2 separate regions of the Homo sapiens genome follow, and region 2 is linked to region 1. The links come from fine-mapping of genetic effects on gene expression. A gene starts in region 1. The other region holds a variant in brackets. All regions are shown on one strand. Distances are between the middles of the regions.

Region 1 (14,746 bases):
CTAATTTTTGGATTTTTAGTAGAGATGGGGTTTCACCATGTTGGCCAGGATGTTCTTGATCTCTTGACCTTGTGATCTGCCTGCCTTGGCCTCCTAAAGTGCTGGGATTACAGGCATGAGCCACCGTGCCCGGCTAAGCATATCTTTTCTCTTTTTTTTATTTTTTGAGACGGAGTCTCAATCAGTCGCCCAGGCTAGAGTGCAATGATGCGATCTCGGCTCACTGCAAGCTCCGCCTCCCGAGTTCATGCCATTCTCCTGCCTCAGCCTCCCGAGTAAGCTGGGACTACAAGCGCCCGCCACCGTGCCCGGCCCCAGCCAAGCATATCTAAGTTTCTTAAGGAAAGGAAATGTTGGCCTGGCACGGTGGCTCATGCCTGTGATCCCAGCATTTGGGAGGCTGAGACGGGCAGATCACAAGGTCAAGAGATCGAGACCATCCTGGCTAACACGGTGAAACCCCGTCTCTACTAAAAATACAAAAAATTAGCCAAGTGTGGTGGCACGTGCCTGTAGTTCCAGCTACTCGGGAGGCTGAGGCAGGAGAATCGCTTGAACCTGGGAGGCGAAGGTTGCAGTGAGCCAAGATCACGCCATTGCACTCCAGCCTGGGCAACAAGAGCGAAACTCCATCTAAAAAATAAAAATAAAAATAATTAAAAAAAGATTTTATTCAGTGGAGGTGAAAATATATATATATATGGTCTCTAAAAATTTTTGATTGGTGTGTCTGGTACTGAAAAGGGCTTGGAGATTGATATTTATTTTATACTACAGAGTATACAGAGTAGATCTAAAGAATAACATTTTTTCTTTCTTTGAGGTTCTGGTTTTAATTTGGTGTTGATTTTTGCTGGCTAGAGTTCCCCTCTGGATCTCTGGGTTGCCACGGTGACATTTTGGCCTTTATCACATTGCTGTTGTTTTTGGGCCTGCAGCTCCACTGAAATGAGTTCTTACATGCAGGACTCAGGAGCTTGGCACTGGGTCTAGGGAAGCCCATGTTTGTGTGCCACGTGAGGAAGATGAGGGAGAGAAAGTTAAGATACCACAGTCTGGCTCATGGGAGTTTAAAAAGTGGACAAAGGAGAAAGAACTGTCCCAAAAAGGTGTTGCTCCAGCTTCCTTGCAGACCCTTCCAGTGGGTGTTATCTCGAGGAAAGGGACCCTGGGGAGGTTGGAACCTTGTCGAAGTGCCAATTTTTCATCCTCATGTATTGTGACAGGAAAAGGTGCTCCAGTTTCTGAAGACAGGTAATATATTTGGGCATTAACAATGGTTATGGCATCCTTTGGTTTTTTAAATTGTAAAAGTAGATATTGGCCAGGAGCAGTGGCTCACGCCTGTAATCCCAGCACTTTGGGAAGCCGAGGTGGGTGAATCACTTTGAGGTCAGGAGTTTGAGACTAGCCTGGCCAACATGGTGAAACCCCATCTCTACTAACAATACAAAAATTAGCCAGTTGTGGTGGCGGGTTCCTATAGTCCCAGCTACTCAGGAGGCTGAGGGTGGAGAATTGCGTGAACCCAGGAGGCGGAGATTGCAGTGAGCTGAGATGGCACCACTGCACTCCAGCCTGGGTAACAGACTGAGACTCTGTCTCAAAAAAGAAAAAAAAAAAGTTGATACTGTGTTACATGTTTTTTTTTTCTTCTTTTTTTTTTGAGATGGGGTCTCGCTCTGTCACCCAGGCTGGAGTGCAGTGTCGCCATCTCGGCTCACTGCAAGCTCTGCCTCCTGGGTTCATGCCATTCTCCTGCCTCAGCCTCCCGAGTAGCTGGGACCACAGGCACCCACCACCACAACCGGCTAATTTTTTTGTATTTTTAGTAGAGACAGGGTTTCGCCGTGTTAGCCAGGATGGTCTCGATCTCCTGACCTCGTGATCCACCCACCTCGGCCTCCGAAAGTGCTGGGATTACAGGCGTGAGCCACCGCACCCGGCCCACTGTGTTACATGTTTCTTTATTGCTGCTGCTGTGATTGTATCACATGTAACTACAACAACAATAAAAATCTTCCTTTCTGGATTAAATTTTTAAATAAAATCAGGATGTTAACAGTGATCATTGTGCTTATTTTGAGAAATAATTATAACAGGATATATTAATTGCAACCCCCGCAATAAGAAAAAACAAAAACCAAAACCCAACCGTAAATAAGTAAAAAGTTGGCTTTCTCTCTACACCTCCCCTCCCCCAACCCCATCCTCCTGCCTGGGTGTACCTTTCAGTTACTCCTGTAGCAGGGACATACAGAATGGCATGTGTCGCTCTTAGTGATCAAAATCCTAGTCAGGCCTCCAATGAAGATTTATTTTCCCTGCATTTTTGTATTCTGCCTATTTTTTGGCCCAAGAAGTAGCCAGGGATGAATGTTTAAACCCTTTTTCCATGAAAGTGTCGCTGTGCTGAAGTCACTTTTTGTTTTGTGCAGCATAAAAATGCACATTCCATTCTTTTTTTTTTGAGACCGAGTCTAGCTCTGTCACCCAGGCTGGAGTGCAATGGGATGATCTTGGCTCACTGCAAACTCTGCCTCCTGGGTTCAAGCGATTCTCCTGCCTCAGCCTCCCGAGTAGCTGGGATCACAGGCACGTGCCACTGCAGAGTAGCTGGGATTACAGGTGCGCGCCAAGGCACCCGGCTAATTTTTTGTATTTTTAGTAGAGACAGTAGAGACATTTCACCATGTTGGCCAGGCTGGTCTTGAACTCCCGACCTCAGGTAATCCGCCTGCCTCGGCCTCCCAAAGTGTTAGGATTACAGGCGTGAGTCACACGCCCAGCCTCTTTGTGCATTTAAAACACTGCCTTTGCTGGGCGCGGTGGCTCACGCCTGTAATCCCAGCACTTTGGGAGGCCGAGGCAGGCGGATCACCTGAGGTCGGGAGTTGGAGACCAGCCTGACCAACACGGAGAAACCCCATCTCTAGTAAAAATACAAAAATTAGCCGGGCTCGGGCGTGGTGGTGTATGCCTGTAATCCCAGTTACTCTGGAGGCTGAAGCAGGAGAATCGCTTGAACCCCCGGAGGCGGAGGTTACGGTGAGCCAAGATCGCGCCATTGCACTCCAGCCTGGGCAACAAGAGCGAGACTCCATCTCAAAAAATAAATAAATAAATAAATAAATAAATAAATAAATAAAATAAAATAAAACAAAACACTGCCTTTGAAGGCTACTGGGGCACTGGTAAACTCTGGGAGAGGTTACCAGCAGGTGGGTGGAACTCTGCTTGCCTGCTGCTGCTTTTTTATTTCTTCTAAGGCATATGTAGAGCAATCTTGGATAAGTTTTCAACTCACCTCTCTTGGAAGGAAGCTGTTTGGGTTGCCTGGGCAGGTTTTGTGTGAAAACCAGCAAGAACTCAGATGATGAGAAGCAGCTTCTGTACAAGTCTGATTTCTCCTGCCTGGCCTGGGTGATCACAGTGGGTCCCGGGATGTTTAAACTGATGGTAGAGTCAACCATCAGCATTTATTTCTGTGTTTACAGTCTTCTTATTCTATTTTACTGGGCTCTTGGTTTTTGCTTGCCTGCCTACCTTCCTTTCTTCCTTCCTTCCTTCCATGTACTTTGCCCCTTTCTTTAAGGCAAATTAGCATGTAATGTGCAAACCAATCTCTCTGGCACTTAAGGAAGACCCCAAACCCCACTCCCTTTCTTCCCCTACCCCAAGAATTCACTACCCCTGGTTCAATTTCAGCTGAACCCGGAAACCTGTGATGTGACATGAAGGCTGAGAATTCCCAGAAATGTTAATACTTTTGGTCTTAGAAACTAACCAACTAAAAAAAAAAATCCCTTGCCAGTAAGAGGTAGGCTACATTTAAAATAATTTCTGACTGAAGAAGTCCTACGTACCGCTTGTCATATACATATGTAAAGATAATTTAAAACCCTAGGGTATACCCTTTTCAAATGCAGAGTTTATAGTTTCCAAGGGGAGGAGGGCAGGGGAGGAGTAACCAGGACCTTTCCTGCCAGTCTTCCAATCGCGATAGCTCGTTTTGGCTGTGAATTTCCCCCCTTCCCCTCCCCCTCCCGTTAATTAAATAAACGCTGGAAGCGTGTGTTTACCGCACACGACTCGGCCCTCGGGGAACTCTTTTTCTACGTCTCTCCTACTCTTAAACTCCTCAACTCACAGAGGGTTGGAGAGCTGGCACCATGAGCTTCCAGTTCCTACGGGTGAGAAAAGAGGTGTCTGTGTGGAGGGCAGGTGCGACCCCGGGGGCTAGCAGAGAGGAGAGGCTGCGGGAGGACTCGCTGCGAAGGGCGAGGGGTGGCGCTGGGTGGGACGGGCGCCTGGGGCCGTGCAGGGTGGCTCCTGGGTGCTGCCCGGGCTGCCTGTCGCCCAGTACTGGCGCAGGAAGACGGGTCCGCGCAGCGTCTGGCAACAGTGGCCTGCTCCACGCCTGGAGGCGACCAAGTTCTGAGTTAAAGGCGCCGGGCTTAGCCGGGAAGTGTATGGCGACCCAGAACACGGAGCGGAGAAGGCCTCAGGGGACACGAGGCTACCGCCTTAGTCCTCGGGCCTGCGCTCCGAGCGGTTAGGGTGCGTACGGATGGGCTCCGGGATGTTAGTGGAGAGGTGACAGGAGTCTACCATCCCACGGCCAAGCGTGTGAGGCCTCCGGCGGGCGGGGGTCCCCCCCGGGGCAGGGCAGGGGGAGAGTCAGGCATGTCTCTAACGGGCTCCCTAGTAGAACCGCTAGGAAAGTGGCCTTCAACCCTAGGCACCTTTGTGGCTTTCAGGTAGTTGGGCGACTAAAAATTCACTTTTGCCTGCTGTGAAATGGGACAGGTGGTTGTCAGGTTAGAGACTGTGCCCACGAAGTCTCGTTTGGCGGGCCGGGACTGACGTGGACCCGGGCCCTCCTCGGAAGCTTGGGAACCTGTGAGCCCCTCAGCTCCTCGCCTCACTTTGCCTGTTTGAAAAAAGGAGTTGTTTGAGAGGAAGAGTTAAGGCTCAAAAGGTTCTAAACGAAGAGCATGCGGCCTGACGCGGAGCGCAAAGAAGCGAGCAGTGAACTGAATCTGGTGGGACTGAGACCAGAGGCGTCTGTATGCGGCGGCCGCTTCGCGCCCTATTAAAGCAATCTGTTATTTACGATAATCATTTTTGTAATTATTTTGGAGTGGCTGTGACTTGATGTCTGTGGTGCCCCAGGGCATGCCCTTACTGGACATAGATACTTCAGGGTGCCCTTTGACGCCAGTGTCGGTCCAGTGGGTGCCAGTGCCGCGAAGGGAGGGTGGCGGGCGTGAATGCCCCCTCCTCCTGGGTTTGCCGCAGGCCCCGGCCTTTCCACCTTGCTTGATCCTGGCGGGTCTGCCACTTACTGAGGTCCCTACCGGCGCTCACGTTGTCCCGAGAGGCGGGACAAACGTCCGGCGCGTGGCGCGGAGTCTGCGAAAGCGCTCGGGGGCCTCCATCTTCTGCTCGGGAGTCCCCTCCCTGGGGCGGGAAGAGGAGTCGCAGATCTGCCCGAATCTTGCTCTACCCGCCTGGCCGCCTTCTTCCGTCTGGGGTGGGGGCAGGGGTGGCGGATGACTCAGGCCTGGGGCCGGGAGCCCTGTTTCCAAAGGCACCACCTCGCGCCTCTTTGGAAGTGGCGCGCTGTTGGGGCGCTCCCGCTGTTGCAGAGGCCTGGTTTGCGGTTTCATAGGGGCGTGGGTCCAGGGCTTCCAGGGAGTAAGTGAGTTTAGGCTCCCTAGGGGGCGGTAGAGGGGAACCCCCGACAACCTTCCATCCTCTTCTCCAGGCGGCTGCGAGGCCTCCGGGGTTCCAGAGGGGTCCCCTTCTGCCGGTGCCGGCTGTCTTGAGCGCGGCCACGCAGTCCGCGTCTTCACGTGGGCAAGGGGCGGGGACGTTGGAGGGAGGCTGTCTTGGATGCTGGAGCCTTCGGTTCCCGGCTCTGCTGAGCAGAAAAGTTGAAGTCAAGGAAGGGTTGAGGCTTCCTCACAAGGGCGCGCGCGTGCCTGGGTGCCGGCCCAGAAGCCGAGAATGTGCGTATTGGGGAAGGGTCTCCCGTGCCGAGAAGACAGAGGATTTGTTCTAGCTGCCTTCCGTACAGAGGGCGCGGAGGTTGCGCTCCAGTTCGAACGCTTACCCATTGGAAAGAGGGCAGCGCCGGGGTCCAGGGAAGCTCCTTGGGAATGAATGGCCTTTGCCAAGCGGTTCCGGATCCTCTGGGTCCTTTGGGCCCACGGCACGGTGCTGCGCGAGCCCTCAGTGCCCATCGGCTCCCTTCGCCTCCTGCGTAGACGCTCCCAGGCGGGGAGGCATATCGGTTCCTCCGGGCAGCTTTGGCTAGTGTTGCTGTGGGAAAGGAGAGCCAGGGCCTGGGATGGGGGATGAGCACCTTCTTGCCCATTCCGGGCCCCAGCGTGCAGGAGGTAAACTTGCCAGCACAGACAAGACAGCTTGTTCAAGCTGCACCTCAGGCCGGGTCAGAGAATAAAACCGAGGGCTAGAAGGCCCAGAATGTCGGACAGCCCAGCGGCACCCGTCAGGGAGTCCCAGGCGCCCGAAAGAGGCGCCGCACCTCTGGCGAGTCTAGGACCCATCTTCCTGGACCTGTGCTCTGGAGTGCCTGCGGGCCTGGGTCTAATTTCTGCTTCTGGCAGGTGTCCCCCTCCCCCGCCGCTAATACCAGGAGCGCTGCTTCTGCGGTAACTTATTTTACCCCCAGAAGCCTGTTTTGGGACCGAAGTGTCAGGGTCCTGTGTGTCTTTTTATGCACTGTTCTCCTTAGTGCAAAGCCCTGCAGATATGCTTGGCCGAAAAGTCTCAGTGGTTTCAACTTCCAGATTTTGTTCCCGCGTCCGGTCGGAAAATCACCTGGGATTTGGCTGCTGTCTAAGGCCGGGGGAAAGTTTCCCTTGGAGGACGCCTATTATTATTATTTTCTTTTAGGCCCACCTGGGTCTAAATAAATGCTAAAGTTCAAACGAACCCGAGAAGGAACAGCGAGGCAGTGGATGCCGCCATTCCGTGGATGGGAGAGTCATGTCTACTGCAGGTGCGGACACCGTACTGATAGGCATTGATTATTGCAAAATCGTATTCAGTATCAAATAGAAATAGTCTTGTCCTCTAATCCCCACAGAATGTTTAAATCCAGCCCAGGGAGCCAGTTGGGGCGTCCCAACAAATACGCCCTCGAGAATTAGCGATGTTCCCCTTACAATGAAAGTCAATTGCTGCATAATAACTGGGCCAAAGAATTTCGTTAGTTTAAATTTTAAAAATTAGTATTGCACTTTGCTTTCAAGTTTGGGTGGCAAGTACCGAAGGGGAGAGGGAAGCAGCGTTTGTGTGGAAGGAAGTTTCGTTTTCTGTCTAAACATGTGGGACCTGGGTGTCTACCTCTCCAGTCGAGAGCTCTCTGCAGGCTCTCTCCCAACTTCCTGCACCTCCTCACCCTCACCTTACCCGTGGCGCTCGGGTTTTATTCCTGCCCGGCGCTTCTTTCCCAGGGCGAGTAGAGGCTTCTGAGTGACCGGCCCGCCAGAGGCAGCTGCAGAGCCGGCGTTCCGCAGGGCAGGGCAGGGCCGGGCCGCTGGGCTGGTCCAGTGCGCGCGGGTTCCCCCTGGCCTCAGCCAGCCGCGGGAGATGCCACTTCGGGCGACAGCGGCGAGACGCCGCTGTCCGCAACTCCTGGGCGGGTAGGACCGTCTGCTGCCTCTGCGGCCCTTGGGGCAGACTCCCCAGGAGTCCCTTCCTCTCTCCTCCCGCCCGGGGGCCGGGACCGCGCTGTGCCCACGGAGGGAACTGGGCGTCTCTGGCGCACTGGGGCTCCAGCTGCATGATCCCAGCTCAGACCTTAAGCCTCAGTGGGGTGTAGGTGGGATGGGATGTGTTTTTAGGAGATGAGGAGACCCCGGTTGTTGAGTCGCTCCCCAAATGCGCAGTTTCTTAACTCCAGGTGACATCCGTCTTTTGGAGGAACGAGTGAAGGCCGTTTAGGCGAAAGAGGGGTGGGTTTCAGTATTTGGATCCCTTCCCCCAGCTCTGCCAATCTCAGGTGTGTTTACGGTGGAGGTGACAGAAGGAAGGCGCGTCGGGGGACCCAGGCCTCGCAGGTCTTCGGCTGTCAACGAGGCACCGCCCACTGACTCCGCGCTTCGTCCCTCACAGCGTGGGGCTCGGCGCTGCGCCAGGCCCGGGTGCGGGGCGGAGCTAGGCTGGGACTGGCTGGGGGCCGCCCCGCCCGGCGCCTGGGCCTCCGCGCCGGCCCCCGGGGAGGAGTTATGATAATTTCCTTCTCATTAAGGCGCTCGGGTCCCCCGGCTATCGCCAGGACACACTGTTCGGGCGCGGCTTTCCCCGTCCGCGGAGCGGTCTTGACACTCGCGGCGGCAGCATCTACGCTCGCAGAGCCGCCGATGCGTGTCCAGTGACCCGGACAGCAAGGCCCGCGCGCGGCGGGGGCGGCGGCAGACGCCTGGTCACCGTGACCCCGATTTTGGATTTACCGCTTGGGGGCTGGGGGGATCCTGGATTTAACTGGCGACTGTTTTGGGGGACGCCGGACGCCATGTTGTGGAAAATAACCGATAATGTCAAGTACGAAGAGGACTGCGAGGTGAGCTGGGGCTCCGGGGTGCAGCCCCGCCCCGCCGAGGACAGTCCGGGAGGCAGGGGCCACTGGACCGAGGTCGGGGACGAGGGCATAGGAGCCCTGGCCTCTCGGTGGGACGGGATCCACTTCTCCGGACACCCCTTAGTCCATTTCTGCGGGGCCCCTTTCCTGTATAGGGCCTTTTCCTAAATAGCCTCCCCTCGGGAACGAGGCCTGGAAAGAGAATGGCAAATCCCACCCACACAGCTTACCGGGCGCTTTCCTAAGCGGCAAACAGCCCTGCTTCCCGTTTTCTCGGAAAAGTGCCCCGTCTGCAACCCTCAGACGTGGCTTTTACGCACGAAGTCTCTGTCCAAAGGGGTCAGATGAGGCTACCTGCTAGCGACACCTTGGCGGACACTCCTCCAAGGCCGGCTTGTCACCTGCCCCGCTACCTCCTCGGGGAAGCACGAAAACAACCGAAGTTTGGCTTTCAAAAGAAGTGGGGGCTGGGGAGTGGTGGTGGGGGTGCCCGAGGCCAGATGGGGCCGTAAGAGCTCGCGAGTGCTCCAGCCTGTCGGACAGGTTGAGCTAGAGTTTCGGAGAGTGGGAGGGAAGAAGGAGGCGGCGAGCGGGAAGAGGAAGAAGACGCAGGCAGCGCTAGGCGAGCTCAGGGGCGCCGGGAGCGCGGAGCTCGGGCTACGGACTCGCGGGAGTTCACTGCGCCTCCGGGCCCTGGAGGGCTGCCCCTGCCCGCAGGCCCGGGCGCTTCCGCCAGGAGGCGACAGCGCCATGTTCCTCCAGGTTCCCGGCGCCCCGAGACCCCTGGGCAGATGGGGACGCATCCTTTAGAAACTGAGTCGGGCCGCCCAGGGGCGAGGGAACGTGCGCGGGCAAGGCTGCCCAATTTCCAGGGTTCTTCATGCCCCCTCTGCGCCCCGACGTGCGAGAACACTGCCCTTGGCAGTGCAGGGCGCCCCCACTTATTACTCCCCTCGGCTGGGCCCGGCCAGCAGGGAGGGCCGCCCTGTGCGCGCGCTCCCTCTTCACTTCCCAGGGCGGCGCAGGGTGGCGGGCCCTGCTTTCCGAGCGCCGCCCGCTCGGAGGTCTTTGTCCCGAGGGCGTGGAAGGGAGGGTCCCGGGGGCGGGGGAGGTGCGCATTTCCCGCGCCGCGCACTCTATCCGCGCCTGCCGCGCTGCCACCTCCAGCAGTCCCTGCGTCATGGGCGGGCTCCACGAGATAGCTCTGCACCGGGCGTCCGGCTCCTTCGCCCCGGGCTCTGGCTCCTTCGCCCCGGGCTCCGGCCACGGACTTTTCTGGCCCAAGACCCAGGGTTCGGACTTGGCGCCTCCAAGCGCCTCGGGCTTGGGAGCAGCGCCTAGACCTTCGCCGCCGGGCTTTGAGAACTCGTTCCCCCAGGTCTTTCACCAGACTCTCCTCCCTCCCCGCACTCTTTGCTTACAACGAAATCCTCGGGGCGCATTGCCCCCGGGTACCTTCCGACCCTGGGCAAGCCCCGCCGGGCGGGGTGCGGTTGGTCCCCCGGGGCCCTCTGCGTAGCCCGGCGATGCCGGCCAGTTCGCAGTAGCGGGGTTTCGCACTAACGGGGTCTCCTGTTTTTTTTTTTCCCTCCAGGATCGCCACGACGGGAGCAGCAATGGGAATCCGCGGGTCCCCCACCTCTCCTCCGCCGGGCAGCACCTCTACAGCCCCGCGCCACCCCTCTCCCACACTGGAGTCGCCGAATATCAGCCGCCACCCTACTTTCCCCCTCCCTACCAGCAGCTGGCCTACTCCCAGTCGGCCGACCCCTACTCGCATCTGGGGGAAGCGTACGCCGCCGCCATCAACCCCCTGCACCAGCCGGCGCCCACAGGCAGCCAGCAGCAGGCCTGGCCCGGCCGCCAGAGCCAGGAGGGAGCGGGGCTGCCCTCGCACCACGGGCGCCCGGCCGGCCTACTGCCCCACCTCTCCGGGCTGGAGGCGGGCGCGGTGAGCGCCCGCAGGGATGCCTACCGCCGCTCCGACCTGCTGCTGCCCCACGCACACGCCCTGGATGCCGCGGGCCTGGCCGAGAACCTGGGGCTCCACGACATGCCTCACCAGATGGACGAGGTGCAGGTGAGCGGCGCTGCGGCTCCTGACCGGACCTGTTCACCCTACGGCCTTCTGCCCCCACCCCGCACTCCTCTAGGCTCCCCCGAACTTAAGGGAATTTTGTCCTCTCTCCCCCAGAATGTCGACGACCAGCACCTGTTGCTGCACGATCAGACAGTCATTCGCAAAGGTAAATAGCAAGGTGGCATCGTCTAACTCTGGTCACACGATCTGGGCTTGTGAAGTTGACTGGCAAGGTTGGGGGTATTTGGTGGCCAGCGTGGGACATTTGTGGTAGAAGGGACTGAAAGGGATTCATGGAAGCTAGATTTTAGGAGTGACAGAAAGGGATTTCCCTCCGACCTCCTAGGAGCTGTCTCTTCATCTCCGGAGTTGTTACTGCCTAGTTTTTTTTCTTGGAAAAATGTCCATGAATTCCAGTGGGTGTTTCACAATGTGAGAGAAAGTCTTCCAGAGCGAGTGAACACTGATTTAACTTGAAAAACAACAAGAAAAAAGTCACAGGCACACCTTCGTTGAGTGGTTGGTTCTGTAACAATTTTAATTGTTGAATAAGTTGTGATTTTATTTTTGATTTCAAACACGTGTATGGAAAACCTCCTTAATTCTGACCTGCAAGAAAAGTTTTGAAGCAATTTGGCCTACCAAATGAATACCTGTAAAAGGAACAGAGCTTGGAATGATCTGTCAGAGGGAGAGTTTTGCAGGATGGGGAGGAGGGGATTTGGAAAATTGGATTACTTGGTGAGTGAGTGGTTTATGAAATTAAGTTACTTAACTGACAGGATTACCAGGATTACCATTTTGACTGTTTTGGGAAATAGAGTAGGCCTAAATTGAAGGTAGTTTTGGCCTGTTACTTGAACTGCTTAAATGGATTGAGGATGGAGGAAAAATGGATTTTAAAGAAAAACTCAGAAAAGACTACAAATTTTCAGTAAACTTAGAACGTATTAGTTTGGATGATTAAATTTACTGTGATCAACTGCACTGAAAAATTTTGGAAAGAATCTTAATGTGTCCTATGATTTTGGTTGTTCTTGAGGGGAAAAAACTCACCGTTTATTTAGTATTGAAGCAGTCTTCTGAAAACAAATGTTCTAATTAAATAGTTTTCAGCAGCTGCTAGGAAAAAAAAAAAAAGAAACCCTCCAAGCTTTGGATCTTCACTAATTAACTTCCCAAGGTGTTAACTTGTGAATTTCAGATTAGATTTGTCTCTGAAGTAGGGGGCTTTTTTAAAAAGTCAGCCATGGCCAGGTGCAGTGGCTGACACCTCTAATCCCAGCACTTTGGGAGGCCAAGGTGGGCAGATCACTTGAGGTCAGGAGTTTGAGACCAGCCTGGCTAACATGGTGAAACTCCATCTCTACTAAAAATACAAAAAATTAGCTGGATGTAGTGGTGGGCACCTGCTGGAGAATTACTTGAGCCCGCAAGCTGAGGCTGCAGTGAGCAGAGATCACACCACTGCACTCCAGCCTGGGCCACAGAGTGAGACTCTTATTATTTTTTTTTTTTAAATAAAGTCAGCCTGCAGTTGATCGTGGGGTGTGCAATGATGCTTGTCTAAAGATCACTTTCAGCTTTGGTTATTGGTTTTGAAAAGGTCTCTTTTGCTCAGAGAGAGCTCTTGTGACTGCCAGCTCTGACCTTCATTCACAGGTCCCATTTCCATGACCAAGAACCCTCTGAACCTCCCCTGTCAGAAGGAGCTGGTGGGGGCCGTAATGAACCCCACTGAGGTCTTCTGCTCAGTCCCTGGAAGATTGTCGCTCCTCAGCTCTACGTCTAAATACAAAGTGACAGTGGCTGAAGTACAGAGGCGACTGTCCCCACCTGAATGCTTAAATGCCTCGTTACTGGGAGGTGTTCTCAGAAGGTACTTGGGGCACAATTCTAGGCATAGTGGTTGGGTAGTTGAAGGTGAGTGTATCAGAGGCCCAGGAGGTATTTTTAACATTTATGTGACTTTATGCCTAACACTGAATTCTAATCGGGTTAGAGTTTTAGTACATTTCTTCTCCTTTAGAAAGTGCCAAATGTGGGAGGAAGTGCTAAAACGACGCTCACAAATTCTCACTTGGTTAGAATTTGATCCCATGTATGAAGTGATAGCATCTGTATTGAGGGGAGGTGGGGGGAGCACCCTGGGTTTGTTCCCCAGGGAGTTTTTGTGGGGCCGTTGTAGTTTCACAAGTGAAAATTTGTCTGCTCCCATACAATTTGAAATATTCGGTGATGCAGAGTTGGATGCTAGGAAAGATTGATTTTGTATCTTACGGGGACTAATTGAAAGAGGACCCTGCTATCACTTTTCATTATGGTTCACGTGATGTAGATAGTCTTTGATGGGTTTCAGCTTTGACAGCAGCACTTTAGGAGTTTAGAATTTTTAAAGTGTGCGTGTGTATGTGTTTTTGTTTTTGAGAGTAGCCAGAGTCAATTTTTCTTTTTCTTAGAGCCAAATCGAAAAATGGAGGCCGGTCCTTGCGGGAGAAGTTGGACAAGATTGGGTTGAATCTTCCGGCCGGGAGGCGGAAAGCCGCTCATGTGACTCTCCTGACATCCTTAGTAGAAGGTCAGTGGGGTTTTGTTTTTGGTTCGTGATGTTTTTAATTTGTGCCTGTGTCTTTAATACTTATTGCAGAAAAACTGGAAAACAACTCTTAAAACTTGGTTGCAAGTAGAGATGAAAGCAATTGGAATTGTTCTCTAAGTTTATTGGAATGAATCACAGTTAATTTTATCGAATAAGTTAACATTTAAGTATCTGGTTGCTCAGGTAGGCTCTTCTGTATTCCCCCAGAGAATCAATGTTGGAAAGAAACTGGTTTTCCTAACCTAAGAAATCACACTCTAGGGGTGTCGGCATTTCCTGTTAAATGAACCAGTTTTTTTGGAAGATAACAGCTGATCATTTGGTACACCTTGAGTAAAAGCTGGTTACTTACTGGTGAGCAGAAGTACTGCTTCTGTTTTTTGTAGCTGTGGGTTATTTTGTAGCTGGGGATTGTGGTCAGTGAAGAGAACCTCTTGTATACAATACGACTGGCCCGATTCACAATTCTATTCTTCCCTCCCATCCAAAGAAAAAAACTAATCGAACCCCTGGCCCACGCACAAGTTCCTCTTGCCAGTGCTAAGATAGTAGGACATAGCATTTCAGTTTCTTGAATGGGGGGCCCCTTTACCCCAACCTGGACAGTAGCCAAGAATGCAACACAACCTTTAAAAGGAGCTGAAGGGAAAGTAAAATAATTTTTTAAAAACAAAACAAAGCATGTTGTTACTGCTCCCGGGAAGAGTTGGACGCTGAGAGAGGCTTAGGGCTCTCACTATGGGCAGGGGAAGCCAAGGAGAAACGGGCTCCCCGTGGCAGTACCCTCTTTTGAAGACTTTCTTTCCTTGCTCTGATGGCGTGACGTGGTGCTCAAAGAGACTTGGCAGAGTCCCTGCTTTACCTTTTACGAGTGCCTTTGGAGGTCAGGGCAAGGAGAAAGGAGCTGCCTGTCTGAGAACAGCTGTCCTGCCTGTAGAATCGGCGGTTCTGCTGGGGTTTCTTGCTAGCCAGGCAGGGTGATTGAATAAGAAAGTGTGCTCCAGAACAATGGCTCTCCAAGGCTGCTTCAGTCAACCCAGGGGGCCCCTCCACCATCTGGGTTTTTGCAAAGCTCACCAGTCCTGCACCCTGGAGCCAGGGAAGGTACCTCTTGGGTGGGAGAAACTCTCTTGGTTGCCTCCCTTAGCTCTTCCACTGACTTGGACAGGGAAAAGGGTGCTCCAAGTTGGTTTTTAGGAGAAACATCCCTCCCATCTTTTTTAAAAGAAACATTCTAGAGATCTGCCCCTTCAGTAAAAAGGCACTATTAAAAAAAAAGTAAGCTGTCAGATGTCACCATTTTATAGAGAAGTGACTAGTTTGCTTTTGTCAAACATGTTTATAGCCCTTAAATTTTCCTACTTCCCCAAAATGATACTACTTAATATAAAGAGAAAACATGGGTATGTTTGATTATCTGTTGAGCAGAGGACTGGTAAACATTTTTCAAGTT
Region 2 (14,746 bases), 160 kb after region 1:
AGGATTCTTTACCCAATATTAAAAACAGGTCAGTTTTTGGCCAGGCGCGGTGGCTCACGCCTGTAATCCCAGCACTGTGGGAGGCCGAGGTGGGTGGATCACCTGAGGTCTGGAGTTCGAGACCAGCCTGGCCTACATGGTGAAACCCCATCTCTACTAAAAATACAAAAAATTAGCCGGGTATGGTGGGAGGCGCCTGTAATCCCAGCTACGTGGGAGGCTGAAGCAGGGGAATTGCTTGAACCCGGGGGACGGAGGTTGTAGTGAGCCTACATCGTGCCGCTGCGCTCCAGCCTGGGTGACAGAGTGAGAATCCATCTCAAAATAAATAAATAAATAAAATAGAAACAGATCCGTTTTCTTCTCAGCCCTCTGAAGCTTGTGGATTGGCTGGGAGCAGCTGTGAGGGGAGGACCGATTCCGGCTGGCACCGACAGAGGATGTCTAGAGGGGGCATATTTGAATCCTAAACCCGGTCGTTTGACTCCCCAGGTAGCTCCGCGATTGTCATCACCAACAGTCTGGCATGGAACTGAGAATTTACAGGGATGAATGATGAGTTTCTTTTTGTTTATATGTTCCTGAGATTTTTTTTTTCTTAAAGAAGATCATATTGTGGCAGTAACCTTTTTTTTTTTTGTACTGAAATTGCAAAGTGTAGGAAAACACAAAGAAAAAATAAAAATGACCTAGAATCCTATCACTCAGTGCTTATCACAGCAAACATCTACCTTTCAGCCTTTTGTACATAAGAATTCATAATTTATTGGGTATAGTATTTTACAATATTCCTATCATATTGCCATTTTAAACTGTTTTTTTCTTTATATCAAGAATGTTTTGTCATGACATCTAATATGCAACATCACCTGAAATGACTGCATCGCACTTCATTGTAAACGCAAACCGACAGTTATTTAAACAATTCTCTATTGTTGGATATTTAGGCTGGCTCCAACTTTTTGCTCTTGTAAATAACTGTACAATGGATATCCTGGTATATAAGTCTTTGCACACATCTCTGATTATTTCCTTAGGGTAAATTCCTAGAAGTAAAATTACTGGTGAAATGATTCACACATATTAAGACTTTTGATAAATGCCATCATATTTGCCTAGAAAGTTTATGACAAATAACATTTCCAACAAGAATGTGAGTCTGTCTCCCCAGCCCCTCCTCATCTTCTCCAGTCCTGGGATACATTAACGAAAATGCAGAGGAAAAAAACATAAATAATTCTACCTCCAAAGTAAACCACTGTTAACAATTTGGTGAATATTTCCTCCAGATTTTTTACTGTGTACTTGTACTCATGTATGTGTGTGTGTTTCAGAAATGGAATGATGTATACATATTGATTTGTGACCTGATTTTTATTTTATTTTATTTTACTTTTTTTTAGATGGAGTCTTGCTCTCTTGCCCAGGTGGGAGTGCAGTGGTGCAATCCTGACTTACTGCAACCTCCACCTCCCGGGTTCAAGTGATTCTCGAGTGTCTCAGTCTCCCAAGTTGCTGGGATTACAGGCATGCGCCACCACTCCTGGCTAATTTTTGTATTATCAGTAGAGATGGGGTTTCACCATGTTGGCCAGGCTGGTCTCGAACTCCTGACCTCAAGCGATCTGCCCGTCTTGGCCTCCCAAAGTGTTGTGATTACAGGCGTGAGCCACAGCTCCCAGCCTATTAACCTTTTTTTTTTTTTTTAACTGCATGTTGTCATCATCTTTTATGAAGCATCAGTCACTTCCATGGCTTCATATCATTACAGCAAAGTCTGTACTGGAGAATATTTCACCAGTTCTTTAGTGCTGAGCCTACAGGCTGCTTTCAACATTTCCCATATAAATGATGTGGAAATACATTTCTTTCCTTATACGTAGTTTCTAAATAATTCCTTAGGAATAAAAAAAATGCACATTTTAAAGGACTTTAATATGTATTCCAAAACTCAGAACAGTTGAATCTGTTTCTTTCCTCCAGTTGTGAGGGTACCATTTCTCCATTTGGCTAACACCGTGGGTTACCATTCTTTTCAAATATTGCTACTCTGAAAGAGATACGGAATGATGTCATTACAATTACAATTTCCACCTCCATTGCTTGATTCCTCATGAATCTAAACATTTCTCCTGCATGCATTGCCCACTTTTATTTCCATTTCTGTGATTTGCCTGTCATTTTTCTTTAGCCATTTTTATGACTCTATACGAGCTTTGTCTATTTTAAGAGGCTAAATACTTTGTCATGTAGGTTGGGAATATTTTTCCTCATTGTTTTATGTCTTTTAATTGTATTAGTGATGGTTTTTCGTGTCCAGGAGTTTTAAAAATTAATTATAATGAATACAAGTTGTATTTATTTATTGTATACAACATAATGTTTTGAAATGTGTATACCTGGTAGTGTGGCTAATTCAAGCTCATTAGCATATGCATTACTTCATATACTTATTCTTTGTGGTGAGAACACTTAAAATCTACTCTTTTCCTGATTTTCAAGAATATCTTGTTGGCTGAGCACGGTGGCTTACACCTGTAATCCCAGCACTTTGGGATGCCAAGGCCGGCAGATCATCTGAGGTCAGGAGTTCGAGAGCAGCCTGACCAACATGGTGAAACCCCATCTCTACTAAAAATACAAAATTAGCCGGGTGTGGTGGCACATGCCTGTAATCCCAGCTACTCAGGATGCTAAGGCAGGAGAATCACCTGAACCCAGGAGGTGGAGATTGCAGTGAGCCGAGATCGCGCCATTGCACTCCAGCCTGGGTGGCAGAGGGAAACTGTCTCAAAAAAAAAAAAAAAATCTTGTTATTAACTATAGTCTCCACGTAGTACAACAGATCACTTGAAGTTATTCCTCCTCTCTAACGGAAAATTTGTATCCTTTGACCACCCCCTGGCAATCACCATTCTACCTTCTGCTTCCATGAGTTCACTGTTCCAGGAATTTATTTTTATTATTAAAAAAATTATGGAACGTTTCACAAATTTGCATGTCATCCTTGTGCAGGGGACACGCTAATCTTCTCTGTATCGTTCCAATTTTAGTGTATGTGCTGCCGGAGCGAGCACAGTCCCTGGAATTTTGGATGCTTATGTTGACTCTTCATGTTTTCCCTGGTGGTGTCTGCCTTCATAAGCCTAGAAGGGCCTTCAGGGGAATGGGTTTGAGGGCCCATAGCCACAGCGGGACAGTTGAACGAATATTCAGAGCAAAGCAGATGACACGGAATTTATAGGGCGAATGAGATGGCCTCTGGCTTCACAGAAGCTGTGTCAGTCACTCGGCAATGCAGCCTGGGAGGTGGAGAGCCCTCTGTCTTTTCTTAACTTTTATAAGGGTCTCTGAGCAACTCATTATGTGCAGAAAGAGCCCTGGGTAGAATCCTGGACTCTGGCAGGGCTGCCTACTCACCATGGAGCCTCAGTTTCTTCATTTGTAAAATGAACGAATGAGCCAGGATCGCCTCCTTGGACCCCCTGACTGCTCATGACGTATGGCCTTAAATATGGCTCTAAATGTTACTCCCCATGGAGCCCTTTCTAGGTATCTCAGGCCAGAGTCCTCAAAGGAAAGACATAAAGATTTGACTATATGAACATTAACAATCCCTGGACGTCAAGAAACACCACAAATAAAATTAAAAGACAAAGAACAGACTAGGAACAATGTTTTCAACAATTACGTCATTCAGCCTCCCGACTCAGCCAATGGGTGGATGATTCCTGACTTTCCTCCCCCAGAGGGGTGGGGAAGGTGCAAGGTGACTTGGGAAGACAGCCAGCTTGGGGCACAGGGAAGGTGCTCAGTCGAGGCTTTTCATTTTCTTGAATGAATGAATGAGTGAGTGAATGAATGATGAAATCTGCATCCTAGGTACTGTGTATCTTCCTTTGAATTCTGCCCCATTTATTTTTATTTTTATTTTTATTGTTATTATTATTTTTGAGATGGAGTCTCCCTCTGTCACCCAAGCTGGAGTGTGGTGGCGCAATGTCAGCTCACTGTGACCTCCACCTCCCACGTTCAAGCGATTCTCCTGCCTCAGCCTCTTGAGTAGCCGGGACTACAGGTGTCTGCCACTGAGCCTGGCTAATTTTTGTATTTTTTGTAGAGACGGGGTTTCACCATATTGGCCAGGCTGGTCTTGAACTCTTGACCTCAGGTGATCCACCTGCCTCAGCCTCCCAAAGTGCTGGGATTACAGGCGTGAGCCACAACGACGGCCTATTTTTATTTTTATTTATTTATTTTTTAGATGGAATCTTGCTCTGTCGCCCAGGCTGGAGCGCGGTGGCGCAATCTCGGCTCACTGCAACTTGCACCTTCTGGTTCAAGTGATTCTCCTGCCTCAGGCTCCTGCGTAGCTGGGATTACAGGCGCCACTACCACACCCGGCTAATTTTGTGTATTTTTAGTAGAGACAGGGTTTCACCATGTTGGCCAGGCTGGTCTCGAACTCCTGACCTCAAGTGATCTACCTGCCTCAGCCTCCCAAAGTGCTGGGATTACAGGTGCGAGCCACTGAATTCTGCCCTATTTAAATGAAGAGAAGACAGATCCTCGACCACAAAGAGAAAGTGGTTCGCTTCTGTTGCTTACTGTGGGGTTGGCGCTGTGGAACGTCCCAGCCTCCTCTGAATTCATCTGGAAAACGGGTTTAAAAATTCTTACTTCCCTGCCTCCTGCCTCCTCCCTAGAACGGACGTCAGTTGGGATGAATCAGAGCCTCGGTATTTTGGCTCAGCCGTTGTTTTGGCAATAAGAATGATTAAACAGATAGTTTATTTATTTTACTCTCATCTTCTGTACCCACATCTCTGGAAGAGCTGTGTTCATAGGTGTGGAGACAAGTAAAGAGCTTTCTGACGAGTCAGAAGCTGGTCATGGGAAGGAAATGAGGGCATCTCCTAGGTAAAGGAATTTTTATTTTCTCACTGGATTTCTTCTCACTTTAAACTGGTTCTTTTGTGTTCTTACTTGGCTGGGAATGTCTGGAAGTCAGCACTCCAGCTGCTGAACTCCAGAACTCAGAAAAGATGCACATAAATAGACTTTGGTTGCAGCATGAAATATTGGGTTAGACATCAAGAGGGACTTTCTAGTCAATGAGATTGTGTAGGCAGAGGAAGAAATGGAGGAAAATCATAAAACTTTCTACTCTGTGGGAAAGGTAGTTTTCTGGGAGGCACTCCAGCGCCTTTGGGTGAGACCTTGTGCCACGTTCCCGGAGGCCTGGGTGGCAGCAATGAAAGGAGGAAGTGAATGCAGCCCTGATGGCAGGCTACTGAGGACAACGCAGCACTGCTCTCCCATTTTACAGCTGCAGAAACCGAGGCAAGATCCTGCAACAAATATTTACAGAAGGTGTCTGCATGCCAGCCTTATTCTGAGTTCTGAGGACACCGCAGTGAGGGAGGCAGAGTACTAGCAAACAAGGTCATGAATATGGAATGTGATATTGTGCAATGATGGGGCTGGACAAGGAAGTGAGCGGTAGGGAGGGATGGAAGCTGCTGTTGAAAGAATGGTCAGGGAAGGCCTCTTTGGGGCAGGGTCATGTGAGATGAAATGACTCACCCAGGGTCATTTAGACCCCAGATACAATTGAGTCTGCTTCCCTGGCTCCTAGTCAGGGGTTCCTCCAGGGTGTTTTTGGGCCTAAGTAACAGAAAACCCAACTCAAAAAGGCTTACGCCAAGAAAAAAAAGTTTGTCTAAAAAAATCCAAGGGTAGAACTTGTTTCAGGAATGTCTTGATCCAGGATCTCAAATCACATTGCCAAGCCCTGCCCTCTCTTATGTCTCTGCCTCTTCCACAAGGGTTCTAACTCCCAGGCTCCCTGTGGGAGCAGGAAGGTGACAGTGTTTCCAGGCCCACGGCTCCCAGGTTCAAGCTGGCAAGAAAGAGCTGCTCCATCCTCATCCATTTGAACAAAAATGCTGGGCCTGACTCCCTCAGCCAGGTTTGGGTAACAGACCCGCTTTCTGAACCAATGGGAATAGCTAGGGGGATTTTCTGCATGGACTGGGCAGGCTGTGTCCCAGGCCCATCCTGGAGCCCTGGGCTGTGGGAAGGGAGGGAGCATCCCCAGGTGAAGTTTTGACCCTTGTTAGCAAAGGAGGAAGGATGATTCAGGCCGGCCCCAACCTAGCCATGAAAGTGCTGCCTGGCCCCCTCTCTGTACTGTGTCCACATCCATCATTTCCCCCAGGCTTTATTGAGCACCTGCTGTGTGCGTCCATCTCTGTTTCCCAGAGCTTAGACTTCAAGGTATAGGAATTGTTTTGTTTTCATTTTTTTTTATAATCCTCCAAGATCTTCCAGTCTACTTGAAGAAACAAAAGCCACATCCTGTTTTTTATCCTGTCTTTTTGTGGCTTGCTCATGGCATGAATTTTCTAGCTGTCAACAAAGGGAGGGGCGCTTTTGGGCTGGAGGAGTCAAGAGGCCTTCAGGAAAAAGGAGGGCTTTTGATACATTTTCTTTCTTTCCTTCCTTTCTTTCCTTCCTTCCTTTCTTTCTTTTCTTTCTTCTTTCTTCTTTCTTTCTTTTTTTTTTTTTTGAGACAGAGTCTTTCACTGTTACCTGGGCTGGAATGCAGTGGCCTGATCTCAGCTCACTGCAAACTTTGCCTTCTGGGTTCAAGTGATTCTCCTGCATCAGCCTCCCCAGTAGCTGGGATTACAGGTGTCTGCCACCACATCCAGCTAATTTTTTGTATTTTTAGTAGAGATGGGGTTTCACCATGTTGGCCAGGCTGGTCTCGAACTCCTGACCTCGTGATTTGCCCGCCTTGGCCTCCCAAAGTGTTGGGATTACAGGCGTGAGCCGCCACGCCTGGCCCAGTGCATTTTCAAGGGTGGCTTATATCAGGAGAAGGTTGACAGAGGCTAGAACTTGATAGTGCATGCAGGCTATGGTGAGCGGGACACACACCGTGTGATTATGACTTTTTGGGATGTGTGGTTAAAATGTGTGTAGTTCTTGAACCACTGAGGTTTATAAGATTATAAGGCAGGACACAGG[C/T]ACATGTTTATCTTAGTAGTCAGGTATTTATTCCAAGTTTATGTTAGAAGCAACTATGTTATTAACTTATCAGACCTGGATAACATTGTTCAGGATGAAACTAAAATTAACAAAAAATAAAAGTGGCAGGGAGTCCATTTAAACAAATATCATACATATAGGTGGTAGCAGACATGGCAAAAATGTTGTTATGAGAATGAGTAAGGCTGGGCGCAGTTGCTCACGGCTGTAATCTCAGCACTTTGGGAGGTCAAGACGGGCGGATTGCTTAAGGTCAGGAGTTCGAGACCAGCCTGGCCAACATGGTGAAACCCCATCTCTACTAAAAATACAAACATTAGCCAGGCATGGTGGCGCATGCCTGTAATCTCAGCTACTCGGGAGGTTGAGGCAGGAGAATCACTTGAACCCAGGAGGCGGAGGTTGCAGTGAACAGCGGTCCCGACCCTGCACTCCAGCCTTGGTGACAGAGCAAGACTCCATCTCAAAAAAAAAAAAAAAAAAAAGTAAGTTTTGGGAAATGCTGGTCTAGCCCTCAGATTCTGGAAGCAGAAAGACATGGATTCAAATCTCAGACCCACCCCACATGTACAGTGAAGCTTTGGGCCAGCTGCTTCACCTTTCTAGCCCTCAGTTTTCTGACCAGTAAAATGGGGCTGAGAATGGGATAGGAGCAGTCTCACGGGAGATGTTCAGGAATCTCTGAGATGTGGTTATGTGAAATGCCTCTTCTCCAAGGGGACATTCAGTAAGTTAACTCTCCATAATCTGGATTATTTTTCCCAGGAAAGAAAGAAAAAAAAAAAAGGCCGTCCAGCTACATGTGCAGGAAGTGCAAGGGCCAGAGGTGGGAAGGAATGTGGCAGGTTAGGGAGACTGCTGCAGTGGGGTGGGGTGGTCCCTGCAGGAGAGAGCAGGGATGGTGTTGTGTCAGGGAGGAGAGGATTTGCAATTTTACAGGAAACCTATGGAGTAAATAAGCCTCCTCTGGGACTACATGTGGTACCTTGGAGGACGGGCTTACCTGTTTCACCCAAATCTCTTTTTGCTCCCAGCAGACCTCTGAGCGCCACTGTCCACCGCAGCCTGGGGCTGGGCTCATCTCTCCCCCATCCAGAGCTTTCTGTGCAGACAGATTCTGGTGAACCTGGGTTGGGCTCCATAGATTTAATCTATGTTGTTTATCTTTTAAACACCATTAACCACAAATTAGCTGATTCTTTTGTGGCTATAAATTAATAGATTCCATTAGTGAACAGCAAATTACAGGATGATTACTTTTCCTCCCTGAACTTGGAGCTTTTTTTTATAGCTTTTTGAGAGGGTTTGGTTCTGTCCTCTTCCTGCTGCCGCTTTCCTATCTAGGTTCTTTGTTCATTGGACCAAATCTTCTGAATGGCCCGGGAGGCTGAGAGTGGGTGACATGGACTATCTTTGTAATGAGGTTATAAGCCTGTTCGCTTTGCAGAAGCAAAACTGACTGGAGGTTTGTTTTCAAGAGAATTTTTGTTTCAATCACAGACCAAACCAGCAAAGTTGCCACCTCCTTTTACTCCTGCGTATAACATAAACACATCGTATTTGCTTTTTCTTCCATAGCTTTGTTACTTCTGAGGCCTCATTCTGGTAAATACTGGATAATCTTTTCTTTCTATCCATCTGTCTATCCATCCATCGATTCCCTTATCCATCCATCCTCCTCTATCCATCTGTCCACCCATCCATTCATCTACCCTTCCTCCCTCCCTCCCTTCTTTCCTTCCTTCCTTCCTTCCACCTGTTCCTGTTCCTTCATCCTCCCATTAAGACACAGCTGCCCCTACAAAGCTCAGCTGAGGGTCTGGCTGGAGCTGCCAGGAGGGGCACTGATCCCACTACATCCATCTGCCACGTCCTAAAGCATTCGGGTAGTGACATCGGGCTAATTTTTGGAACCCGTAGCTGCACACCTGTTATAGGATGGCAACCAATGTGCTCTCAGGTGCTAGGCAGGTAACTTAAACAACTAGGTAGGTAGGCAAAAATAAGTCTCAGGGCTTCAGTGAACTGTGGGGTTCAAACCACTCCTAAGACTTTCTAATTCAAATAAAAAATAATTTTTTTTTTTGTTTTTGAGAAAGGGTCTCACTTTGTTGCCCAGGCAGGAGTGCAGTGGCATGATCATGGTTCACAGCAGCCTTTGTCACCTGGGCTCAAGTGATTCTCTCACCTCAGCCTCTTGAGTAGCTGGGACCACAGGTATGAACCACCAAGCTCAGCTAATTTTTGTATTTTTTGTAGAGACGGTTTCACCATGTTGCCCAGGCTGGTCTCAAACTCCTGAGCTCAAGCAATCTGCCCATCTCAGCCTCCCAAAGTGCTGGGATTACAGTTGTGAGCCACTGCTTTCAGCCAAAATGCAGTATCTTTAGAGTTTGGGGTTGGGTTTGTGACTTTTGACATATCAATCAGAATTCTTTAGTTGCAAGCAACAGAAATGGACTCTTCTAGGCTGAATAATGCCTCCCCCACCCCCACCAAAGATGTCTATGATCTCATTCCTAGAACCTGTGAATCTTACCTTACAAAGGGACTTTGCCGATATGGTCAAGTTAAGGATTTTGAGATGAGGAGATTATCCTGGATTATTAAGGTGGGCCCACGGAATCGCAAGGGTCCTTGCGAAGGGGAGGCAGGAGGGTCAGTCCAGAGTAGGAGATGTGCTGGAGGCAAGGAAGGAGCCAGGAGCCAGGGAAAGCAGGCGGCCTTTGGAAGCCGGGAGAGGCAAGGAAACAGATTCTCTCCACTGTTTTCAGCAAGAACGCAGCCCTACTGATGTTTGACTTGAGTCTAGTGAGGTTGATTTTGTCCTTCAGACCTCCAGAACTGTAGGAGAATACATTTGTGTTGTTTTGAGCCACAGAGTTAGTAGTAATTTGTTCCCACACCAATAGGAAACCAATACACTAGCAAAAAAGGAATTTTTTTTTTTTTTTAAGACAGAGTCTCACTCTGTTGCTGAGGCTGGAGTGCAGTGGCATGATCTTGGCTCACTGCTACTTCTGCCTCCCAGGTTCAAGCGATTCTCCTGCTTTGGTCTCCTGAGTAGCTGGGACTACAGGTGTATGCCACCACGCCCAGCTAATTTTTGTATTTTTAGTAGAGACGAGGTTTCACCATGTTGGCCAGGATGGTCTCAAACTCCTGACCTTAAACTCCTGATCTGCCTACCTCAGCCTCCCAAAGTGCTGGGATTACAGGCATGAGCCACCGTGCCTGGCTGAAAAAAGAAATTTATTAAGAGAACTTGTAGTAGCCTCTAACTCCAACTAAAAACAGAAACTCCAAAAGGGAGTTCCAGAGGGAGCTGTGGCTCTAGAGAGCAGGCACAAAGAACAGTCCCGCAGGGCACCTCCGCTGGGATGAAAATCAGCATTTCCCATCCGTTCTGAGGCTGCTCAAAATTCAAGTTCCAAGGAGAGAGTCTGGCTGAACTTGGGGCCAGTGCCCATGCCTTGGAGAGGGAGGACATCATAACTGAGAGTCTTGGTGGGCTGGAAGTTGCCCAGAGCACAATCAGATGCCATGACTGGAAGAAGGGGTCAGCGCCCGTCCATGGGAAAGAGAGCCGATCACTCATTTTGAGTCTGTTGCCCACCCTTTGTCCAGTCTGCTTTGGCCAGGGTGGGGGCATGGACAACCAGGATGGCAGTTGGGACCCTCCTCTTTAAGGACAAGGGCTGGGCAGACACACTGCTGTGGCCTAGATCATTCCCAGCTATGTTCTACCCTTAGTAAGCCCAGCTGTGGGTGCTTTCTGATTAGAAATCTGAATTCTCAGCCTCGGGGAGGGCGGTCCAGCCCTACTGACCTCAGCTTGTGGTCTGCACCCCATGCTGATTCTTGCTGGGATTAGGGTCACCGTCTCCTAACTGGCCCCGGTTTTGGAACTTTTCTCTCTAGCCTCCCATCTTTCCAACATGTGTCCAGTTTTCTTCCACAATATAAACACATTAATTCTTCCCGGAGTGCTGAGGGGCCATGACCATGATGATCTCAACACTCTGGGCATTTTGGGCCAGATGATTCTCTGCTGGGGTGCGGTGGGAACATCTCTTGTACATTGTAGGATGTTGAGCAGCACCTCCAGCCTCAACCCGCAAGATGCCAGCAGCACCCTCCCCGAGAGTGTGACAACCAAAAATGTCTCCAGATGTTGCCAAATGTCAAGGGCAGTACCGGCCCTGCTTGGGAACCTCTGGTTGGAAGGATCTCTCTATTTCCACCACCTCTCCCACCATCCCAGCATCCCTCCCTCAGCCACGGTTATCATTGGTGTCTCAGTTCCCACCCTTGATTTCTTCCAGTCTATTCCCCAGAACCTGCCAGGGAGATGTTTTCTGGAAAGAAAACCTGATCTCCCGTCACTCCTTTGTCTGAAACTCTTCTAGTCTCCATGGTGCTCTTGGCTAACATCCCACCATTCGCTGTCTCCTATCAGCTCTTCCAATTTCGCCAGCCTCATGGCCCATGCCCCTCCCCGCTCCCCTTTAAGCTTCAACCACACACTGACCTTCTCTGGGTCCCCTACTGGGTTTTTCCACTCCAGGGCCTTTGCACATTCTGTTTCCTCCCTTTTTTTTTTTTTTTTTTTTAAGACAGAATCTTGCTCTGTCACTCAAGCTGGAGTGCAGTGGTGCAATCTCAGCTCACAGCAACCTCCGCCTCCTGGGTTCAAGCCATTCTCCTGCCTCAGCCTCCCCAGTAGTTGGGATTACAGGGGCGCACCATCATGCCCAGCTAATTTTTGTATTTTTAGTAGAGACGGGGTTTCTCCATGTTGGTTAGGCTGGTCTCGAACTCCTGACCTCGTAATCCACCCACCTCAGCCTCCCAAAGTGCTGGGAGTATAGGCGTGAGCCACCGTGCCTGACCATTTTTTTTTTTTTTTTTTTTTTTGAGATGGAGTCTCACTCTGTCACCCAGACTGCAGTACAGTGGTGCGATCTCGGCTCACTGCAGCCTTCACCTCCCAGGTTCAAGTGGTTCTCTGCCTCAACCTCCCAAGTAGCTGGGATTACAGGCACCCGCCACCACGCCCGGCTAATTTTTGTATTTTTAGTAGAGACAGGGTTTTGCCATGTTGGCCAGGCTGGTCTCCAACTCCTGGCCTCAAGTGATCTGCCTGCCTTGGCCTCCCAAAATGCTGGGATTACAGGTGTGAGCCACCATGCCCAGCCTGTTTCCCCTCTTTGGAAAACTCTTCCTGCCACTCTTTCCTTCATTAACTTACTCATCTTTGAGACCTGTTTCACTTAGGAATGCTTTTGGCTAAAATTATAGTGGTTTAAACAAAAACAGACATATTTTTCTCCCATAACAAAAAATCTGGAGGCGGCTGGTTTCTAGTATTGGTTCTGTGACTTGGGGCTGCTATCTCTGCGATTCTCTTTGCTGTTCCCTCAGGGTCACAAGACGGCTGCCTCAGCTCCAGCTATCTCATTCCCATTTAAGGCAGGAAGAAGGACAGTGGAGCCAGCTGACTTCAGCTTGCATCTCATTAGTCACAATTGTTCATGGCAACCCCAGCTGCAGTGGAGGCTGGGAAAGTGTTTAATTCTTGCAGCCTTGATAGAAGGAATGAGTAAAGGAGAATGGGGTTGGGAATGGCTGTCCATTAAGTATTGGTTTAAATGTCACTTCCTCCAGGAAGCCTCTCTTGATTCCCTAAACCAGGTCTGATAATCCTATTACATGCTCTCCTTGTAGATAGTACCTCTCTGTCATACCCTTATCACCACCTATAGTTTTTTTTTTTTCAATTTTTTTTTTTTTTTGAGATGGAGTCTCACTTTGTCGCCCAGGCTGGAGTGCAGTGGCACAATCTCAGCTCACTGCAACCTCCGCCTCCCGGGTTCAAGCGATTCTCGAGTGTCTCAGCCTCCTGAGTAGCTGAGATTACAGGCGTATGCCATCATGCCCAGCTAATTTTTGTATTTTTAGTAGAGACGGGGTTTCATTCTGTTGGCCAGACTGGTCTCTTACTCCTGACCTCAAGTGATCCACCTGCCTTGGCCTCCCAAAGTGCTGGGATTACAGGCGTGAGCCACCATGCCCTGTCTAAAACCTATAGTTTATTAATTTGCTTGTATAATCGATTAATAGGCATCTGTTTCTTCTTGGGGCTGGGAGTTTAGTTCATGAGTTCACTCCTGTTTCTCTAGCCCCTAGCATTGTGCCTGGCACCCAGTAGGGCCTCAGTAACTATTTCTGGTCTATACTAACTGCTGCCAAGTAATTCTTCCCGGAGCACTGAGGGACCATGACCTTGGCTGGCCCAGGACCCCCTCTGACTCCCAGGGGAAGGACAGACAAGAACCTCCTTTAATCAGGTGCCTCCCCAGCAGTGGCCAAGCCTTGCTCTGGCAAGCTTTCTATGCCGCCCAGGTTTCTGGAATGGGTCCATCAGAGTTTCAATTGCACCTCTGTTGGCCACAGCATTGATAAGGAGAGGAAGCTTGTATGCAGATCAGTTCTGAGATACTGCACAGAAAGGAAGCTACTTCTGTTGCGTCACCCTGTGCCCTGGGAGGATTGAGGATCCGCAGGACCCAGGGCTGATCCCCACCCACCTCATCTCTGGCTTCTGCCTGCCAGGTGGGACTTTTAGGTTTTCTTATTTCTTTTTATTAATTGATCCAGTTATTTCACATGTGATTTGTAATTTTCACTTAAAATGGAAAATGTGAGTGACATCAAGCATTGGCTTTCTGCATATTTATTGGGTATCCATTGTGGGCTGGTGGTGGAAATTCAGAGGTGAACAGGAGGTTGCTGCCATCCTTGCCCCCTTAGGAACTGCAGTTCAGCTTGGGAGACAGACAAAGGCATTAATCACAGATATAGATAAATGAAAAATTGCAACTCTCATAAGCCTTGTGAAAGAGAAGAAATGAAATAGATATAATTTTGTATTTGTCCATTATGCCTTAATAAAGCTGGGGGAAAGAAGAGAAGAAATGGTGCCAGAGAGTCTATGAAAGGGATTCTCCTTAGGGAAGTTAGAAGAGGCTTCCCTGAAGCTGCAATGAAATGAGCTCATGCAGGAAGGAAAATAGGGGCCAGACAGGTGAGCAGGCCCAGAAGGTGCGTTTCAGGCCACGGGAAGAGCCAGGGCAAAGGCCCTGGGATGAGGCTTAACATGCCACAGTGGTTTCCTGAGCTGTTACAACAAATTTCCATGAACTTAGTGGCTTAAAACAACAGATATTGATTCTCTCACAGTGCTGGAGGCCAGAAGTCTGAAATCCAGGTGTCAGCAAAGCCATGTTCCTCCTGGAGGCTCTAGGGGAAAGATCCTTCCTTGCCTCTTCCAGCTTCTGATGGTTGTCAGCAACCCTTGGCGTTCCATGGTTTGAAGACGCCTTACTCCAGTCTCTTCCTTTTTCACACGGCCTTCTCCCCTGTGTCCCGGTGCCTCAAACCTCCTTTTTCTTTCTTTCAAAAAGACACAAGTCGGCCAGACGCGGTGGCTCACGCCTGTAATCCCAATACTTTGGGAGGCCGAGGTGGGCAGATGAGGTCAGGAGTTCGAGACCAGCCTGGCCAACATGGTGAAACCCTGTTTCTACTAGAAATATAAAAATTAGCCAGGCCTGGTGGCGGGCACCTGTAATCCCAGCTACTCAGGAGACCGAGGCAGGAGAATCGCTTGAAAGTGGAAGGCGGAGGT

Direction of the effects. Positions count from the first base shown, and alleles are read on the strand shown. Sizes are in standard deviations (SD) of each study's normalised expression.
For the expression in sigmoid colon of the gene that starts at base 8,310 in region 1, C is the high allele of the variant in region 2 and T is the other (small effect, 0.37 SD a copy in GTEx).

What was found.
Region 2: its variant is fine-mapped to the expression of TFAP2C in sigmoid colon (GTEx, PIP above 0.99). The same link has a PIP of 0.9 or more in transverse colon.

The regions. Positions count from the first base shown.
Region 1 is chr20:56,620,997-56,635,742 of GRCh38, forward strand. It overlaps TFAP2C (transcription factor AP-2 gamma), which reads left to right and starts at 8,310. Exons shown (of 7, transcript NM_003222.4): 1 at 8,310-8,596; 2 at 10,209-10,694; 3 at 10,809-10,860; 4 at 12,357-12,573; 5 at 13,154-13,272. The coding sequence starts at 8,549. RefSeq lists enhancers at 3,810-4,572, 6,097-6,857 and silencers at 8,221-8,280, 8,337-8,631.
Region 2 is chr20:56,783,011-56,797,756 of GRCh38, forward strand. It overlaps the pseudogene RNU6-929P. Among named protein-coding and RNA genes, the nearest start is that of TFAP2C, 160 kb to the left of the region's middle. RefSeq lists enhancers at 5,351-6,110, 6,111-6,869. The variant C/T (reference allele first, on the strand shown) is at 7,036.